2 linked regions of the Homo sapiens genome follow. The protein of the gene in region 2 purifies or fractionates together with the protein of the main gene of each other region. This does not show direct contact. Each region holds a gene or a part of one and is shown on either strand. Other genes may lie near its edges.

Region 1 (3,500 bases), on a different chromosome or scaffold from region 2:
GAAATCTAATAGGGGTACTACCACCTCTGTTCTAGAGCTCCTAGTGAGGATAAATACAATCCTAGCCAACTCAGTTTTCGTAATGAAGGAAAGGAATTGGGAAGAACTACACACAACAAGAGTCCTTTTTAAAGTCTGCCTTGGGGGAAGATGAATCAGTTTGACCAAATTTTTCCTAGAAGTGGGCCAGTGTAAAAGGTATTCTATAATAATAACTAAATTCTGAATCTCCGTAGAATTAAAGGTCAAGATTATCTACTTGGGTCCAAAATTAAACCTAAGAGGCTGTAGGTGGGAGGAGGGAGGAAATTGAATATAAGTAAAATTAAACCTACTGAGAGAACTTTGAAGATCCTTCCTCATGTGTGACATTGCACCTTTTTCCTTCATTTCCTTTAACACGGGCCAGTTTAGAGCCTTGGCTACTGTGAAAAAGCTATGAGTCATAGAGACCACATAAGGAATGAATGATTCTAAAGATAAGATAATTGCAGTAAAGAGTTATTCGTGCTATTTTGGGGTGAAAAAATCGACTTGATTTGTCAAAACAATTATTGTTATACCTGTAAATTCTGTATAAAAGGAATTCTTTATGGTCACATAAATCCAGAACCCAAATGAAATCTATTTCACGGCTTAGGAATGGTTTTTTGGAGCTAACCAGGAGGAGGCAGCTAGTTTCCCTTTTGGAGATATAAACTGTGCTCGGCATTATCCTTATGCCACATTTCCCAATTTAAAAGTAAGGAAGATGAAAAAAATTAAGTACAACTTGGATAAAACTCTAAAAGAGAAATACATAAAGGAATATTTGCAGTAGTTAAAAAGAAAAGACCCACTCCAGATCACACACTGGTACTCTGTGTGGATTAAAATTAATAGTTGACAAAAGCTGGTATTTGTAGGTAGCACCTTAAGGGGTAGGGTTAAGGCTGTGAACCTTTCAGAATGTTTTTGGTAGTAAACCCTTAGGAGCTTGCAGTTTAGGATCACAGCGTTGATCTCCTTGGGGAACCAATGGTATGTCATCATGTATGTGATATTTATGTCTCTTACAGGGACAGGACCAGATGGTAGAATCACCAAGAAGGATATCGACTCTTTTGTGCCTAGTAAAGTTGCTCCTGTGAGTTATGTGTAGCTCTTACTTTTTTTGCAGTTTGTCTCTACAGCCTGTTAGACCATTTCATACATTATTTATGAACGAAATAGCTCAACCAAGATTGTTTTCTTCTAATTTCAGTGGTTTAATAATACAGTCATCCCTCGGTACCCATGAGAGGTTGGTTCCAGGAGCCCCCTTGTATACCAAAATTCGCAAATGCTTAAGTCTCTTATATAAAATAGTGTAGTATTTGTATATAACTTACCCACATCCTCTCAAATACTTTAAATCATCTCTAGATTACTTATAATATTAAATACAAGGTAAATACTATGTAAATAGTTGTTATATTTTATTGCTTAGGAAATAATAATAAGGACAAAAAGTCTGTACTTGTGCAGTTCAGATGCAACCATCTGTTTTTTTCTGGAATATTTTTGATTTGCCTTTGGTTGAATCCAGTGATGCAGAACTTATGGATATGGAGGGCCAAGTGTATTTAGATATTTGTGTGCTATCATTTATATACAAGATCAAAGATGATATACTACATTGACATGTATTCCACATTATGTTTTGAGCTAGTTAATCGGTTTTTGCTTTGAAATAAAAGATTTGTTCTTTTTTTCTTTTTCAAAATATTTTAAAGTACAGTTGAATGAGTTGTTTTTGGTGTTTGGTTTTTTTTGTTTGTTTGTTTTTGAGACAGTCTCACTCTGTCGCCCAGGCTGGAGTGCAGTGGCGCGATCTTGGCTCATTGCAACCTCTGCCTCCTGGATTCAGGCGATTCTCATGCCCCAGCCTCCCAGGTGGCTGGGACTACAGGTGCATGCCATCACACCTGGCTAATTTTCGTATGTTTAGTAGAGACAGGGTTTCGCCATGTTGGCCAGCCTGGTCACGAACTCCTGGCCTCAAGTGAGTCATTGTGAGGCTCAAGTGAGCCTCCCAACCCCCTTTTCTTAACATTGTTTAGGATAATGGATTAGCTTGTTTATACTTATTTATTATTCCTTGCAACTTAAGAATGCTTCCATTGCTTTTCTTGAACATAATTTTGCAAAAACAAAATTATTTTGACACAAACTGGTCATTGAACATACTCTGATACAAAGAAAAATGACACTTAAAACATGACTTCAGAATTCTAAGTAAAAAAATTAAAACTCTTAAAACAAGCAGAAGTCTCTTTTGCTCACTGGGGACAGAAATAGGTATTCTATAAAGCTTAGTTTTTAGACTGGACATGGTGGCTCATGCTTGTAACCCCAGCACTTTGGGAAGCCAAGGTGGGTGGATCACTTGAGCCCAGGCATTTGAGACCAGCCAGGGCAACGTGGCTAATTTCCGTCTCTACTAGAAATCCAAAAAAATTAGCTGGGCATGTTGGCGTGCACCTGTAGTCCCAGCTACTCTAGGGGCTGAGATGGGAGGATTGCTTGAGCCCAGGAGGTTGAGGCTGCAGTGAACCATGATTGAGCCACTGCATTCTAGCCTGGGTGACAGAGCAAGACTCTGTCTCAAAAGACAAAAAAAAAAAACTGCATAGTCACTGGCAGTCTTTCCCAGGTACTTACGCTAAGATTGAATCACAGTTACTAAGAGCTTTTTCTTTCCTCCCATAGGCTCCGGCAGCTGTTGTGCCTCCCACAGGTCCTGGAATGGCACCAGTTCCTACAGGTGTCTTCACAGATATCCCAATCAGCAACATTCGTCGGGTAAGAGAATTACCATCATCTGGAATCAGCTGTTAGGGGCATCTTTAGGTTGTTTAGTTGCTTCCATAGTTTTTAACACATTAACAGAGGCTTTTTAAGTTGGGAATATTGGATGATTACTTTAAGGGAAGTTTTGGCCAACTGAATACTTGAATCACTTTGTTCCTATTAGAAGGGCCAGGCGCAGTAGCTCATGCCTGTAATCCCAGCACTTTGGGAGGCCAAAGCGGGCAGATCACAAGGTCCAGACTTCGAGACCAGCCTGGCCAACATAGTGAAACACCCCGTCTCTACTAAAGATACAAAAATTAGCCGGGCATGGTGGCACATGCCTGTAGTCCCAAGTACTCGGGACGCTGAGGCAGGAGAATTGCTTGAACTTGGGAAATGGAGGTTGTGGTGAGCCGAGATCGCACCACCGCACTCCAGCCTGGGCAACATAGCGAGACTCCATCTCAAAAAAAAAAAAAAATCTAGGAGGTGTTATATTATGGCGGAGTCCTCCATCTTTCAATTATAATAATGCTTGAGGTAAGTATTAGCAGAGAGTAAGGTGAAGAGACAAACAGAGCCCTAAATTAGTTAAGGTCTTAACTCAAGATAATTGATTTTTTAAATCTCTTTGGTTTCAGGTTATTGCACAGCGATTAATGCAATCAAAGCAAACCATACCTCAT
Region 2 (2,730 bases):
CTGGCTATTCACAGGTGCAACCACGGCACTCTATAGCCTCCAACTCCTGGGCTCAAGCAATCCTCCTGCATCAGCCTCCCAAGTAGCTGGGACTACAGGCGTGAACCTCCATGCCCGGCTCTATGCATTTTTTCTTTTTTTTTTTTTTTTGAGACAGTCTCGCTCTGTCGCCCAGGCTGGAGGGCAGTGGCGTGATCTCGGCTCACTGCAAGCTCTGCCTCCCGGGTTCACGCCATTCTCCTGCCTCAGCCTCCCGAGTAGCTGGGACTACAGTCGCCCGCCACCACACCCAGCTAATTCTTTGTATTTTTATTAGAGATGGGGTTTCACCATGTTAGCCAGGATGGTCTCGATCTCCTGACCTCGTGATCTGCCTGCCTCGGCCTCTCAAAGTGCTGGGATTACAGGCGTGAGCCACCGCGCCCTGCCTGCATTTTCTTAAAACCTGCAGAGGGAGGCTGTGTAGACTTAAATATACTAAAAACAATCTGAAAAGCAACTATTTTGTATTGGTTTTATTTAAATTTTACAGAAACCTGATCAGAGTTAAGTATGTAATTATAAGTCCAGTAACAATTTCTACAAAAATGCACATACAATGCCAGAACTCCTTAAAAGCAACTAATATCATATTTGTGTTTTGCATAAAACATGCATTAATATGTTGGCCAAAATCAGTCTCTACAAGAAGAGACAGTCCAATACAGTCAATAAGAAAACTAGTTGTGAACAACAGGTAAAAAAAGAGGTTTCCAGTTAATGTGAAAGAAGGAATAGTACCTTTCATAAAACAAGCCCTTCAGCGCTGAGTTAACTGATCGGTACTATTGTGCTGCACGTAATGTAACACATCACCTCCAAGACTTGGTCCTGATTGGTCATAGGAAGTAAGGGACTTTCTGGTAGTTACATCAGATATTTGAGAAGATTAAAAGTTTTCCGGACATGATGGTATACTAATAGTGCAACCTTGCAAAAAGGGTTCGAAACATTGTCAGACTTGGAAGAGTTCCCCAGCTTGATAAACAACCTCAAAGACACCCCGAGCCTTTGAACGGAGCCCTCTGCACAAGGCCAGCTCAGGGCTCACCAGCATGTCCTGTGGCCACAAGACCTTCCAGCTCCACATACCACCCTTCGTGAGGATCTGCAATTAGGAGCCTGAGTGCCGAAGAACATGGTTGTGCCATTTCTTTGAGGCTTTGACTTTTTATAAGGCCTAGTTCATCTCATCCAGGGATTGGGCACTCGAATGAATACACAGATGCTGGACACATAAGGAGTATTAATATACATGGTGGCCCCACAGCCTGAAATGCTTTTATTAACATACATCAAGGTGTGTCTCCGACTGTCAGGAAAGACCTTGGTCCTCCAGAGGCAGAGAGAAGCTGAGGGTTCTCTATGTATCACAAGGCATTTCCTACATAGACTGAGGGGTGTTAAAGAGATCTCATATCAACTGAAAGGACTTCCCCTCAAATGTGGGGCTCTGTACAACCTTCCATGAGGATCTTCAAAAAAAAGATCTCATAGTCGTTAGGGAAGTGGCGGTGGACATTAACATTATATACACAAAACTCATCATTCGTGCAGCCTCGGGCCTTGTTTGTAATCTCTTCCACAGTCTGTCTCTTCCAAAACAGGGCTCCCTGCCCTGCTTATTTCAAGTAAGCTAAGTCAGGATCTGTTTTCTTTAGCAGATTCAAGGGGGAAAAATAATAATTTATTGGGGTTCTAATAACATTTTCATAACAGAATATCAAAATAGGTCCATTTTTGATATATGCTTATGAATATCCCTGATAATATCAAGAAATCCAGAGGACTTCGTAAACCACCAAGATTTCACAGGGGTGAGACCCGGTCTGTTTTCTAGGCAGCAGAGAAGGGACTAGTATACGGGCAAATGTTCTCCAGGAAGCCCTGTGAGCACTACAGTACTGAAATTCTAATTCTAGTGCCAATAGAATCATGAACGAAAATTTCACTTGAACTGTATTAGTAAAATTCATAACAAAGGCTTGCTTCCTCAACCCTGTCATCTGTTAATCTCTCCGCCTGTGACAGACATCCAGACCAGAAAACCATCAGTCCTGGCTACTCTGGAGGTTGGGCCTAGAGAAAACAAGCCCCAAGATCCTTTCTAAGCTATGACCAAACCTCAGAAAACAGGGACGTGAAAGAAGGAGCAGACCAGGCTTGAGGAAGCTTTGACCCAAGGCACCACGATCATAGGGGCGAGGGGACCTGTAGAGGTTCTAGGTGACGGGAAGAGAGCCTTCCGTGATGCCTGCGGAGGAGGTTCTGGAAGGCAACAGCTCTGTGGCAAAACACACACATCTGGGAGTGAAATAACAGATCATTAAACAAGACACCAATTTGCTTTCTCAAAACAAAATCAAACTTAAAAACTATGCAAATAACCCTGGGTGCACTGGAGTAGGAGTACACTGGAGAAGTCTGTGGAATGAGCTGCATCAGCTGAGTCACAGAGGACGCTGGCTGTGAAGTCAGCATCCACACGGTGGCTACTGCAGCTAAAGAGAATGAAGGGAGCGCGAGGCCTCTCCAAACAGAGGAGGACGGAAAGGGGGCCAAATGTGAACCACACCTCTTTTATTCCAAGAATGGGAAGCGCATTTTCATTGGCTTGAATGAGAAAGCTTCATACTCCACTCTAGCTGCAGTAATACTGCATCCCATCCACTCTTCTTCTCTTTTTTGACT

The links. Proteins that work in one complex are often made in the same cells at the same time.
Region 1: the proteins of UBR7 (region 2) and DLAT purify together in Homo sapiens (affinity purification with mass spectrometry, with the first as the bait; one large-scale study listed by BioGRID). This does not show direct contact.

What each region holds. Positions count from the first base shown.
Region 1 is NC_000011.10:112,042,408-112,045,907, forward strand, and holds part of DLAT (dihydrolipoyllysine-residue acetyltransferase component of pyruvate dehydrogenase complex, mitochondrial isoform 2 precursor), read left to right. Parts: intron 1-1,058; coding exon 1,059-1,126; intron 1,127-2,730; coding exon 2,731-2,823; intron 2,824-3,455; coding exon 3,456-3,500.
Region 2 is NC_000014.9:93,226,986-93,229,715, reverse strand, and holds the end of UBR7 (putative E3 ubiquitin-protein ligase UBR7), read right to left. Parts: coding exon 2,681-2,730; 3' UTR 501-2,680; downstream 1-500. UniProt on the Homo sapiens protein: E3 ubiquitin-protein ligase which is a component of the N-end rule pathway. Recognizes and binds to proteins bearing specific N-terminal residues that are destabilizing according to the N-end rule, leading to their ubiquitination and subsequent degradation.